Homo sapiens: one gene and its partners. The protein of the gene in region 4 interacts with the protein of the main gene of each other region in a biochemical or structural test. Each region holds a gene or a part of one and is shown on either strand. Other genes may lie near its edges.

Region 1 (3,500 bases), on a different chromosome or scaffold from region 4:
GTGGGAATTTAAGATGAGATTTGGGTGGGGACACAGCCAAACATTATCAGGCCCTTTCCTTAGTCTTTCTTGCCTTCCTTTAACCTGTGCTTTGCTTTCCCTCCCCATCCCTTTCACTGCAAACTCTTTCTTTCTGAAACAGTTTGATCACAGATCTGATCCTTACGTGGCCAGCTCCTTGCCTGGGTGAGCAGCTGCTGCAACCTTAATGAGCCCCAGGCCCACCCTGACAGGACCTGTCTGGCTCTCAGCCCCCAAGGGAAGACCCAGATCCCATGACCCCATCAGTGCTCAGAAATCAGACCCCCAAGCTGGAGGCAGTAAAGGCACCAGAGACTCACTCAAAGTCAGTGAAAGGAAAACAAGGAGGGACTTGGGAGGCTGTGTGGAGTTTTGTGAGCTGGTTTTGCAGGTATCTAAGTCTGCCAGCAATGTCCCTTTCACATGTGTCCTGGGGCCCTTGGCTAGGACTAGGACAGCCTCTTGAAGGAACTAAACCAGAACAAACAAGACAGTAGAATCTCTTCCCCTTCCCACCCCTCTCCTCACAACTCCCAATATGGACACACATCCCCTGCACTCAGGGTGCCCTCCTTCTCCCCAAGCACCTGTCTGCCTTGCTCTTAGTGTGCACCCTTTTCAGTCAGTTCAAGCATCTCTGCCTCTTTGAAACTATATTCTCCACATCATCTTATAGATTCTTTTTTCGAGACAGAGTCTTGCTCTGTCGCCCAGGCTGGAGTGCAATGTCACATTCCCGGCACACTGCAACCTCCACCTCCCAGGTTCAAGCGATTTTCCTGCTTCAACCTCCCCCGTAGCTGGGATTATAGGTGTGCACCACCATACCCAACTCATTTTTGAATTTTTAGTAGAGACCAGGTTTTGCCATGTTGGCCATGGCTGGTCTCGAACTCCTGAGCTAAAGTGATCCGCCCACCTTAACCTCCCAAATCATGCCTGGGATTACAGGCATGAGCCACCATGCCTGGCCAGATTCTTTAATGTAACATCTGTGGCCCACCCGTGTTCATAACAGCATTATTTGCAGTGAGCAGTAGGTGGAAGCAGCCCAAGTGTCCATTGACTGAGGAATGGAAAAACAAAATGTGATACGCACGCATAATGGAATATTATCCAGACTTAAAAAGAAGGTGATTCTGACACATGCTGACATGTGTGATTCTGACATGGATGAGCCCTGAGGACATTATGCTGAGTGAATTAGGCCAGACACCTAAGGACGGTGCTATAAGGTTCCACTTACATGTGGGTACCTGGAGTAGTTAGTCATGGAGACAGAAAGTAGGATGGTGGGCGGCAGGGGTAGGGGAATGGGCATTAGTGTTTAATGGGTACAGAGTTTCAGTTTTACAAGATAAATGGAGTTTTAGAGATGGATGATGGTGACGGTTGCCCAACAACATGAATGTATTTAATATAATTGAACTGAACATTTTCAAGTGATTACAATGATCAATTTTATGTTACTTTACCACAATTTGAAAAGTACATAAAGTACCTTTTGTGTATTTTACCACAATTTTTTTTTAAAGAAGATAGCACGATGGCATGATTTATAATTCTGGGTCAGCATCTCACAGTACCCTGAGCCTCTTAAAGTCAGGGAGCATTTTATATTCGTCTCTGTACCCCCAGAAAATGGCATGCTGCAGGGCACATGGTGGGTGCCTGTGAGAGTGAGGGATATGCACATACAAAGAAATCGGTAACAAAACACACACGACAGCTCCCGCAACAGCCCGTTCTCTGGGTGTCAGTGTTAGATACTTTCGGAACTGCTCTTTTCAGCTCTTCCCACCACAGACCCATTTAATGGGCTATAGTCACAATTGAATGAATGATACCCTTGTGCCATGAAAAATAAATATACAGCTTCATGCCCAGAAGATACCCAGGGAACCAGCAAAAGCTGATTCCTCATTATCTACCCAGCATCCTTGTGAGTGTGAAGAAGGTGGAGACCACTCTGCAGGCAGCATCAGCTGTAGCTCTTGCTGAAAGCAAGGTTTCTCAGATTCTGTTCCTGATGGGGCCAGGGGGATGTTTGCTTACTCTCAGACAATGTGTTATTAGGTCCTACCTGATCAACATCATTCTGTTAGTTTGGCCACGTTGTAAATTTCTCTTGTAGCCATAAAATATGAATTATCTACAAACCTCTGTTGTACACATTAGAAAACAACCTATATCCCCACATTGATATCGTTCCATCTTAAAACCCCCCCAAATCATAGGATTACCTGAGATCTGAAATGTGGGAGGGTAAATTGAATTTGAAGACTGAATTATAGCTACAACCACTTGGCTTTTGAGACAGAGTCTCGCTGTGTCATCTAGGCTGGAGTGCAGTGGCGCAATCTTGGCTCATTCTGCCTCTCAGGTTCAAGCGATTCTCCTGCCTCAGCCTCCCGAGTAGCTGCAATTACAGGCACCCGCTGCCATGCCTGGCTAATTTTTGTATATTTAGTGGATCCGGGGTTTCACCATGTTGGTCAGGCTGGTCTTGAACCCCGACCTCAAGCAATCCACCTGCCTCGACCTCCCAAAGTGCTGGGATTACAGGCATGAGCCACTGCGCTGAGCCCCACTTGGCTTTTGATTTGTGTCCTGGTTCACTCACAGTGTCACCTTTAGCTTCATTTGTGTATTCAGGCAACATCGTGGTGAGTTGGTTCCACTTTTTGTGTGTATATTCAGGGTTCGTCTCCTCCACACCTGCCTGCAGCCCCAGGATCTCAGGCAGTCCCTTTGCTGTTGGAGCTGATGGAGAGGGGCATTGTTTCCAGTGGAGATGTAGGAATGTGTCCACACAGCAGAAACAGGGCTTCATTCTCTTTCAATTGCTTCATCTGCTCAGATTTCCTGGACATTATAACAAATAGGAAAAAGTAATAGGCGCTAAGTAGGTTTCTAATTCACAGAAGAAATAGCAAGTAAAAAAGAATGAACCAAAATGAGGTATATACCACCCTAGCCTTCCTGGTTAGATTCCAAACACTGGCTGCATTTTTCATTTAGATGGTTTTGTGGTTGATTTAATCATTTTAGAGAGTACTGGGCCATTTTAAAGCATTTTTCAGCTCTAGAGGTAGATTGATTTTGGTTTGTTATTTTTTTTTCCTTGCTCAAAGCTATTACTTGGATAATACCTTTTTACAGATGTGTACTAGACCTTGCTATAGTGTGCAAAAATATTAGTTTCTTATATTCTCTCCTTTTTTACATTAATGTTTGCTGAGAAACCCCTCCTCTCACAGCCAGATTGTCCCACTTGCCCTGCCTGCTTGCTCATCTCAGGGGCTGGGATCAGCATCACCTGCCTCTGCTTGGAAACATGTTAGAAATGCAGACTGTCAGGCCCACCCCACCCTTTTGATTAAAATTGCACTGGGACAAGAACCACCCCCACTCCTGCCCCTGCATTAAAGCCGTTGCTCTCCGGTAAGCAATTTTGGATGACTAATAATCTGTGATTT
Region 2 (3,500 bases), on a different chromosome or scaffold from region 4:
GACCTCCCCATAGCTGTTGCCGCCTTCCTCAGAGACCATACAAGTGTATGTCCCAGTGTCTTCCCGTGTCACGGACTTGAAGGTGATACCAGTTGGCAAGAAGGTCACCCGGTCCTCATAGGAAGCTACCACAAGAGGAGGCAAGAGCAAGGACAGAGTGAACTGGAGAGCTAAGGGAGGCTGATGAAGGGGGCATCCAAGGTACGCAAGTGCTCTCCTCTTCCCCCAGAAAGGGGGGTAGGAAGGCCATGAGGACTTCAGCCCCAGGGTGTGCCCTGGGATAAGGGCACAAAGTCTGGATCGTAGAATCCAGGCATGATAATCCCTCCACAACCTAGGCAATCAGGAAGGAGGAGAAGCAACTCACCTGTGATCTTGTTATTATAGCAAACGAGTCTGGTGGTGTCTCCTTGGTCAAACTTCCACTCCACACGGGGAGAAGAAAAGCCCGAGTAGGCACAGGACAACTTCACAGCTGCAGACAGGGTCAAAATGAGCCGAAGGAAGAAGCAGCAGCAAATACACGAGATGGGGAACAGCCCCAAACTGCAGGCTGGGCTGGGTGCTCTCTAGATCCCCAGGCGGCCGGCAACTGCTCACCCTCACACCCTCCATGGCCCCTCCCAACTCACGATTATTCTCAGGAATTCTGACTTCAGGTTCAGAAGAGTGCACTGTAACACTGCCCAATGCCAGGGAGCCTAAGGAGAAAGAAAGAGGTGGGCCCTGTCAGGAGTGGACAGAGAAATGCCAGGAAGAAGGAGTCACAGACCCAGTGGACAGGGCTTCTCCATTCACAGACCCTAAGAGGAAGGGATTCCAGACTTATGCTCCCTCTGGCTCTCACACTTTGTCACCATGATCCTAAATGTCTTCTTTAAGTGCTTTTTGCTACAATTGCCAGCTAATACTTCTTTTATCCATGGGAATGCAGTTTCTTTTGCTTCTAATTTTTCTCTCTGTGACTCCCAATAATCTAATTAGATTTCTACTAGTCCAAGGGCAGCTTCCAGAATGACATTTCACTGTTCAGAGAAAGCTTCTCAACAAATGATTGCAGCCACTTGTCAGGACAATCCTGGAAGGAAGCCAGCAGGGCTGGAGGCAAGGGATGGAAGGGAAGGGCAGAGCCATGATGAGGATAATAATAATACTCGACATTTGTGGAGCATGTGGTGCTTTTAAAAGTGTTTTCGTGTACATTATGACACGTTGCATCATTTGATCCTGGACACAAGCATGACAGATCGGCAAGACGTATATTATTATCCCGAGTTTACATGAGGAACTGAGAGTACAAGAAGTAAATGTGCCTAAGATCACACAGCTGGGGCCAGGTGCGGTGGCTCAGGCCTGTAAACCCAGCACTTTGGGAGGCCGAGGTGGGGAGGTCATGAGGTCAGGAGTTCAAGACCAGCCTGGCCAATATGGTGAAACCCCATCTCTACTAATAATACAAAAATTAGCCAGGCATGGTGGCACACCTGTAGTCCCAGCTACTTGGGAGGCTGAGGCAGAAGAGTCGCTTGAACCCGGGAGGCGGAGATTGCAGTGAGCCGAGATCGCGCCACTGCCCTCCAGCCTGGGCGACAGAGCAAGACTCAATCTCAAAAAAAAAAAAAAAAAAAAAACACACAACTGGTTCTGAGGTGAAGTTTGCACTAGAAGTGGGTTCAGATCACCTCATTAGAATATTCTACTTGCCAAATGGAGAAAGAAAAGAAAAGATAGTGTGTGCTGGGTGGAGGGAGGGAGAAGCAACAAGGCTAATTAAATAATATGGGGGAGGTGCATCAGGGTTCATAGGAGGGACCCACAAAGGTCAAATTAAGAACCAGTGACCAGGGATTCTGGGATCACATGATGCAGCTACAAACCTGCACTTACACAATTATTCTCATCCATGTTTTCAAAGTCAAATTCATGAAATATCCTTTTATTTGTAGCTTCAAGTCAGGACCCTGTCTTAGATAAATGTTTGTAGAAGTCAAGCACATCTGTTAAATTCAAGTACATTTTTCTTTTACTTAATTATGCACATAACTGAATATGGTCTCTTGACCTCTGAGACTCCCCTTCCTCTCTGAAATATGAAATAGATGTGCTCTAAAGTCCTTTAGGTTCTTTTTTTTAAATTTTGGCATTAATGTTTAGATAATATTTGTATACCTGTATTTCAATCTGATATAATAACACTATGAATTAGTCCAGATAAGTATTCTCTCTCCCATTTTATAGATAAGAGACTAAAGATATAGGTTACTCCTATATCCTTTTTCTCTTATTATACTCTCTATTTATTTGTTTTTTTTTTTTTTGAGACGGAGTTTCACTCCTGTTGCCCAGGCTGGAGTGCAATGGCGCTATCTCAGCTCACTGCAGCCTCTGCCTCCCAGGTTCAAGTGATTCTCTTCAGCCTTCCAAACAGCTGGGATTACAGGCGCTTACCACCATGCCGGCTAATTTTTGTATTTTTTTTTTTTTTTTTGAGACAGAGTTTCGCTCTTGTTGCCCAGGCTGGAGTGCAATGGCGCAATCTCGGCTCACCGCAACCTCCACCTTCCGGGTTCAAGGGATTCTCCTGCCTCAGCCTCCCAAGTAGCTGGGATTACAGGCATGTGCCACCATGCCCGGCTAATTTTGTATTTTTAGTAGAGACAGGGTTTCTCCATGTTAATCAGGCTGGTCTCGAACTCCCGACTTCAGGTGATCCGCCCGCCTCAGCCTCCCAAAGTGCTGGGATTACAGGCGTGATTAAGCCACTGCACCTGGCCTAATTTTTGCATTTTTAGTAGAGATGGGGTTTCACCACGTTGGCCAGGCTGGTCTCAAACTCCTGACCTAAAGTGATCTGCCCGCTGCAGCCGCCCAAAGTGCTGGAATTATAGGCGTGAGCCACGGCGACCGGCCTAATTTTCTTTTTTTTCTTTTGTTTTTTTGTTGAGACAGAGTCTCACTCTGTCGCCCTGGCTAGAGTGCAGTGGTGTGATCTCGGCTCACTGCAACCTCTGCCTCCCACATTCAAGAGATTCTCCTGCCCCAGCCTCCTGAGTAGCTGGGATTACAGGCGCCCGCCACTACGCCTAGCTAGTTCTAACTAGTTTTTTGTATTATTATTATTATTTTTTTAAGATGGAGTTTTGTTCTAGTTGCCCAGACTGGAGTGCAGTGGCGCAATCTAGACTCACCACAACCTCCGCCTCCCAGGTTCAGGAGATTCTCCTGCCTCGGCCTCCCTAGTAGCTAGGATTACAGGCAGGCGCCACCATGCCCGGCTAATTTTGTATTTTTAGTAGAGATGGGGTTTCTCCATGTTGGTCAGGCTGGTCTCGAACTCCTGATCTCAGGTGATCCACCCGCCCTGGCCTCCCAAAATGCTGGGATTACAAGCGTGAGCCACCGCGCCCGGCAATTTTTTGTATTTTTAGTAGACAGGGTTTCACCATGTTGTCCAGGCTGGAATTTCTTTTTTTTAAAGAGCTGGGTTCTTGCTACATTGC
Region 3 (3,500 bases), on a different chromosome or scaffold from region 4:
CCAAGCTTCCTACTGTTAGAAGTGTACCTTTCGGCTAAGGTATCTCCAGAAGGCCCGCATTTAAATGTAGTCATTTTATACATCTGTGTTGTGTGGGAAATTTTTTTTTAAATAGTCATTTTATTAGGAGAGTTAGAAAGCCAACTTTTTCTAAGCCAGTCTTTGAATCTTTGTACATTTCTCTTACTGACTTGTACTTGGCATTATGCCCTGGTTTACACTGAGAAAAATTACAGCAAAAGAGTTATACAGTGCTCCGTTTTCTATTTATTTCAGGAGTGTTGTTTAGAATGACGATCATGAAATCACTCCAAAAGCACTCTTTACAAAGACCCATTTAAAAATATATCTTAAGTCTCAATGTTAGGAGAAGTTGTGTCCCTTCTATGCAACTAATTTGTTTTACTTTTTGGATACTAATACTTGATCATGTTTCCCTGTTTGGCCACTTCGAAGTTCAGAATACATTTGTGAACCTCATAGTTTATCACAAGAGTTAGGGGAAACTGAAGGTCTTTCTGTCTCTTTCTCTCTCTCCATCTTTTTAGGAAATTACCAAGCTGCTGCCTTTCCATAGGATTTTTTTGGATCGACTAGAAGAGAATGAAGCCATAGACCAGGACCTGCAGGCTTACATCCTGCACCGGATACACAGCAGCTCAGAGATCCAGAATAACATTTCACTTAATGGCAAAATGGACAATACTACATTTGGCAAACTCAGTTCTCATCTCAAGACCCTCAGTCAAGGGTCCTATCTATATCTGAAACTTACATTTGACCTCATAGAGAAAGGCTATCTAGTGTTAAAGAGCTCTAGCTACAAAGTAGTTCCTGTTTCGCTCTCAGAGGTTTATTTACTCCAGTGCAATATGAAGTTCCCAACCCAGTCTTCCTTTGACCGGGTGATGCCTCTCCTGAATGTGGCAGTGGCCTCTCTCCACCCACTGACTGATGAGCATATCTTCCAGGCCATCAATGCTGGGAGCATTGAAGGCACACTAGAATGGGAGGATTTTCAGCAGAGAATGGAGAACCTCTCCATGTTCCTAATCAAGCGCAGAGACATGACTCGTATGTTTGTACATCCTTCTTTTCGAGAATGGCTTATCTGGAGAGAAGAAGGAGAGAAAACCAAATTTCTCTGTGATCCGAGGTAAGACATATATCTGTGATAAACAATTCTGAGTCTGTTTTCTGTTTATTGCATGGAGTGTGAGTATTGAAAGTAGAAGTGTTCTTCATTGAACATTTCACATAGAAGAGACATCATCTGTGTTTCTTCTCAAGGCAAGGCTATAATGAGGTTAACTAATTTATTGTTTTACAATGTTATTTCCTTAAGACTCAACATCTGCATAGATATTTAGAATGCTATCCTACGTTCCTGTGTTCTTCTAAATAATTTTCACTGACCCCACAGGGTTCACAGGCTATAATTAAGTTAACCATTTAATGGACTTCCTCAGTATTATTATTCTGATATGAAGAAAGAATTGATATATTGTAAATCTCTTTGATTTAGGGCAGAATCATTTCAAAGTTTTTATTGCCCTTTTATAAAACCTTATCATTTTTAAAGTTTCCAGTGACTAAATCCATTAAAGTCCAGCCAATGCTAAGCTTTATACTAGAAAATACAATCTTAAACCTCCTAGCTGAAAAAGATTTGAAGAGATCAGCTGGTCTATCCATGCTGCCTTTAGATACGTAAGGTGTCATTATCTCCATTTTGCTATAAAGGCCTTAAGATGCTGGATCAACTTGCACAAAGTCATAAGGTTAATACATGGGAGAAGGGAGGGGCACACACCAGAATAGGGATCACAAGTGCATGATATATCCCACCACTCCCCACCCCACACGCACAACAGGATCACTGATTTACCCCAGCACTCTTTCCCAATGAGCTTGAACCTGACTTGAGAATCTTTCTCAACTCAAACCAGACTAGATATGAAACTGTTTCCCTTTTTATTGCATGAAACCTAGTTCTCTGGCATCCTGGTCGGGGTGTGCTTTTACTCCGTCATACTAACATTTTTAAAGACGTATTCCTTTAATAAAGTTGGTGTTTTCAAAAGCCGGGTACATTACTGACTTCATGGAAACAAAGAAGACACCAACAACATAGCTGGCAAATGCAGAGCTTATTTTGGCTCAAAAAGAAGAGGCCAGATTTGACTATGCCTCACATGTGACTCATCAGAAAGAATAAAACTCTGTGTTCATGCTGGGGTTTTATTGCCCTTCACCGTGTCCTTCACCAGGCCTTATTAGAGACAACTGTACTGTGGGCATGCTGCTCAGCCTACTCCATGCTGATTCATCAGAAAATTAGTTCCAGATTATGATGAAGATATTAAGCCAGGCAATAGACTTTGTAGCATTTTCTCTGAGAGGGAAGCTTTTTTAAAGAAACATGCTGTAGTGGAAAGAACATAAACTCTTGAGTCAAATTACCTGCATATAAATCCTGCCTCTTCTAGGAACTTTGACCTTTGGAAAAAGTTACATAGTGTTTCTAAGACTTAGTTTTCTTATCTACATAAGAGCAATAATAATGCCTTTTTTCTAGAGTTGTTGAGAAGTTAAGTGAGGTCATATAGTATGATGCCTAGAATAGTACAGAGTAAAAGAAACACTTGGGGTATGTTCTTTTTCCTCCCCTCACCCTGCAGTAATAGACCCTTCTGGTGTATCTTAGTTAAATCCTGTGGCTAATCGGATAGCGACAGCCATCTTCTGCTGTTATCATTTTGGAGCACAAGATTTTAAAAAGAAACAATAAAAACAATCCAAGTCCCTTCTGTGAATTGTATGATGTTCCCAAAAGGATTTTACTATAAATCCTACTAGAGCTGTTGTCAATATTTAATACAAAGAACTGGCAACTATGTATATAGGAAAAAGAAACTAATGTAGAATTGCCTAATAAACGCTTTGAGATCAGTTCCCAGAGAAACTTTGCTAGCTGATCTGGGACCTTAGATCCTGGGACATCTCAGAGGATTGAAAGCTGAGGTCCAAGGCAACCAGACTACCACTGAATTAATAGTATCCTTACAACAGATGAAATCCTCAGGGGCTCTCAGAGGAGAAAATACGGCTTTTATACAGCCATATCATGACTATACAGGCTTTGCCTTCTCAACATCGCATTTTAACTAGGAGTTTTGCAGCAACCGACTGATGCACTGGGACAAGAGGAGCAGGTACTTCCAACTTCAAATCCTGTATAATCCGTTCCCTGATGATTGAATAGCATGGCTGCTGAGAGATCATCTTATTTCACTTAATGGCAGAGAGTAAAATTGTAAACAGGACCAGGAGTTATCAAAAAAAGCTTTCTTAGATTTCATTTCAGTTGGAACTCAGCCCCCTCCCCAGCAATGGCTGGCACCAACCTTGTTACTAAAGTACTGAAGTATTGATCTCAGTGCTTAAGGCTCCCTAGGTCAATGAGATGGAAATTCACTAAGAATTTAATGCTATTGGCA
Region 4 (3,500 bases):
AAGAGGCTTGTGATTCATTTATCTGCTGAGTAGGAAAACAGCTTAGTAGAGACAGAAAGAGTAAGGGTACCAGAGAAAAGATTATTAGTGGATCAAGGCCCTTTATTTAAGAGGTAGACTCCAGAGCACCAAGGAATGTATAAGTAATTAATGGTCCAATTGGAAATTTGTTTTTCAACTCTACAACTCAGCTAAAATGAATGTATATCTTAAAGATATCCAGTGAAGATAGACACTTTTATTTTTTGAGGATATTTGTTCCTCAATTAATTCCTGGAAATCATTTCTTTTATAATGCCCTACAATTTAAAAAGAGATGTATCAATATTTTAAACATTATTGGCAAAAGGGTGAGAATATCATCTATAAATTTTGCATCAACAGAATAGCTATTTTCATTTTTCCATTTTATCTGTTACTTTCTTAACCCTATACTGTTTATCCATTCCAGGAAGTTAATACAGATTTCTAAAAGCAAGTTATATAGTATGAGTTTACTCTATTTGGTATGCTATTTAAATGATACTACTTTTTCTTCTTTTTTCCTCCCAATAAGGATCAAGATTCCCTAAAGAAAAGCCAAGGTGTTGGTCCAATTAGAAAAGTTCTCCTCCTTAAGGAAGATCATGAAGGCCTTGGCATTTCAATTACAGTAAGAAGTAGTACTTCCAGTATCATTTTCTACAGTTATCTAGTATAATCATGCTCCTTTGTTGGACATCACTGGGGAACAGAATATTCTGGATATATTTTTTAAATAACTAAAATTTATCCCCATGGGGATAAATGTTTGCTTTTGTGTAAATATTTTTTTAAGAAATAAATATTCCTAGCAACTATTAAGTGTACCTTTAGTAAGCATAGTTTAACATTTTTATTATGATTCACTTAATAGTTCTGTGCCATATACTGTGATGCCTCTAGGAGCCCTTGGGAATAGACGTGGCTGTTTTCTTCTATGTTAAATGGCTTCAGATTGTATTGTTCTCTCTCGGAGTACGTGTATCTTTCTCTTGCCTCATTTATTAGCTGTCAGATTTCACTGGCTCTTGGGTCCAAATGTTATATATTCTTTTTTTTAAATTCGATGCCTTTAGGAGTCATTTTGTTGTCATCTCAGTGCTTTAATGAATAAGGTGGCTTTAATTTTCATTTGGTAATACTTAGGCACTGAGCAAGATCATTTGTTTTTTTAGTATTGCTTAATGTAGAAATGTTTCTTATAATAAAAAGCTCATCTAATCTATATTTCTTGAATACTTACCTTTTTTTTTTTTATGTGCTGCCTTCAAAGAGCATACATTTTAGCAGGACAAATAAGACACACACACACACCCCTACACACACGCAACAATGATATAAGCTAGAGAGTGATAGGTACCAAATACTGCATTTTTTCAATTCTACATTGCATATATTTTCATATTTTAACTTCTCTGAAATTGAAATTTATCTTATAATCTTAAAATTATTTTTGTGGCACCTAAAATAATTGGTCTTGTCATTCGTAGTGATTTAGACTTGATAAAATGTAATGGTGCTATGGAGTACTAACACATAAGTTTTTTTTAATTTAAGAATTTAGCCAATTTCTGTTCAATACTCTGATAATTTTTACCATTACTTAAGTAGCAAATAAAATTTTACCCAGCATTTATAGAGACAGCATAGGTGTTTAATGAAATATATTTTTAAGAAAATATTTTATCTCTAGATTAATCGGTAACTGTACCTTACAAAGAGTACTTTAATTTACTGCCCTTTGTTGTTGTTAGGGTGGGAAAGAACATGGTGTTCCAATCCTCATCTCTGAGATCCATCCGGGGCAACCTGCTGATAGATGCGGAGGGCTGCACGTTGGGGATGCTATTTTGGCAGTCAACGGAGTTAACCTAAGGGACACAAAGCATAAAGAAGCTGTAACTATTCTTTCTCAGCAGGTAAATTCCCTTCATGTAATTAGAACTGGATCTATCAATTGGTTATGAATCTATTGAACACTGTATACTTCCCTACGAAGTTTCTAAAGTAGTAAAGTGTTTACACATAGTTCTTGTTTCCTTTGATTTAATGCTTTTATAGCTGACATTCAGTCAGATTTACTGAAAATGGACCATTCCATTTTGTTTACTTCATAACTTTGAGCAAGTTACTTAAGTCCTCTGTCCCTCAGTGTCCTCACCTGTGTGGGAGGGATTGAAAGAAAGCTGTGAGGATTAAGTATGTTAATACATATAAAGTACTCAGAACAGGACCTGAGACTGAAAAAACAACATCCTTAATGCCTAGAACACTATATATAAGGTATTACAGAAAAGACAGTGCTAGAAGTAGATTGATTTTAGTCATGGAATATTAAAATTGAAATCACACATAGAAACTATCTAGCCCAACTCTCTTAAAATGAGTAAACTAAAGTTCTTAGCGATGAAAGGATTTACTCAAAGTTGCCAAGCAAATAAATTATAGAATTGAGATTCATACTCAGGAGTCATATTTGTCATACAGTTGTACTTAAAATGTTGTTTTATTTTATTTCTTTCAAGAATAGAGTTGAGGGAATTAGAGGCATTGGTAGTACATTGAGATGTTTCTTGGATTATCAGTGTGGTATGCCTCTGTAGAATTGCATCTCAGAGTTGAAAGTGAATATTGTTCATTGGTTCAATTCTATATGATGCATAAATCTTTGCAACATCACTACTTCAATAATTACATTACAGGGAAGACTTGCTGATATCAACCAGTCCATTCCATTGTAATACAGTACTGATTTTTAGAAAGCTTTTTCTCATATTAAGCCTGAAATCTGTGTCTCCATGACAGCTACTCACAGATCTAATTCTGTCATCTAAAACTTTGCTGAAGACCACTGCATCATCTGTCTCTTTCTGCAAAATGGTATTTTTAAAGCATTAGCTGACAAGAGAGATCTAAGAATGCTACGCTATTCTCTTAAGTTAGTGTTTTATCAATCCATCTTGACTGTCATCCAGTAGCAAAAGAGTGGGATAACTGGTGAAGGAGCTATCAATGGGCAGCCATAAGTTTTAAGGAAATGCTAACTAAGCACATATTAAAATTCTGAGGTATAACCTTAAACTGCTGGGAAAGAAGAGCACCAAAGAGACTAACTTAGTGAGTAGCAGTCAAAAATGCCGTGTTTTCTTTTGAGCAAAGGCAAGCCATAGTTTTCAGAATTGCCAACACCACACTTATATGTAGTGGTTGGAGTCTCTTATTAAATGACAATTATAGCTTGGAAATTTTTCTTTTAACATAAAACGATCTGTAACATTTTTTTCTTTTTTGGAGCCAGGATCTCACTTTGTCACCCAGGCTGGAGTGCAGTGGCACAATTACGGACCACTGCAGCCTCAACCTCCCAGGCTCAAACAGATCCTCCGACCTCAGCCCCCTGAGTAGCTAAGACTACAGATGCCTGCCACCATGGCCAGCTAATTTTTTTTTTTTTTTTTTTTTTTGTAGAGATGGGTTTT

The links. The genes of interacting proteins can lie anywhere in the genome.
Region 1: the proteins of GOPC (region 4) and ABCC4 interact in a test that uses a peptide from one of them, tested with the Homo sapiens proteins (one large-scale study listed by IntAct).
Region 2: the proteins of GOPC (region 4) and F11R interact in a test that uses a peptide from one of them, tested with the Homo sapiens proteins (one large-scale study listed by IntAct).
Region 3: the proteins of GOPC (region 4) and TANC2 interact in a test that uses a peptide from one of them, tested with the Homo sapiens proteins (one large-scale study listed by IntAct).

What each region holds. Positions count from the first base shown.
Region 1 is NC_000013.11:95,067,452-95,070,951, reverse strand, and holds part of ABCC4 (ATP-binding cassette sub-family C member 4), read left to right. Parts: intron 1-3,500. UniProt on the Homo sapiens protein: ATP-dependent transporter of the ATP-binding cassette (ABC) family that actively extrudes physiological compounds and xenobiotics from cells.
Region 2 is NC_000001.11:161,000,653-161,004,152, forward strand, and holds part of F11R (junctional adhesion molecule A isoform 1 precursor), read right to left. Parts: intron 702-3,500; coding exon 633-701; intron 476-632; coding exon 368-475; intron 126-367; coding exon 1-125. UniProt on the Homo sapiens protein: Seems to play a role in epithelial tight junction formation. Appears early in primordial forms of cell junctions and recruits PARD3.
Region 3 is NC_000017.11:63,354,235-63,357,734, forward strand, and holds part of TANC2 (protein TANC2), read left to right. Parts: intron 1-548; coding exon 549-1,156; intron 1,157-3,500. UniProt on the Homo sapiens protein: Scaffolding protein in the dendritic spines which acts as immobile postsynaptic posts able to recruit KIF1A-driven dense core vesicles to dendritic spines.
Region 4 is NC_000006.12:117,568,012-117,571,511, reverse strand, and holds part of GOPC (Golgi-associated PDZ and coiled-coil motif-containing protein), read left to right. Parts: intron 1-556; coding exon 557-652; intron 653-1,653; exon of another isoform or gene 1,654-1,775; coding exon 1,776-1,940; intron 1,941-3,500.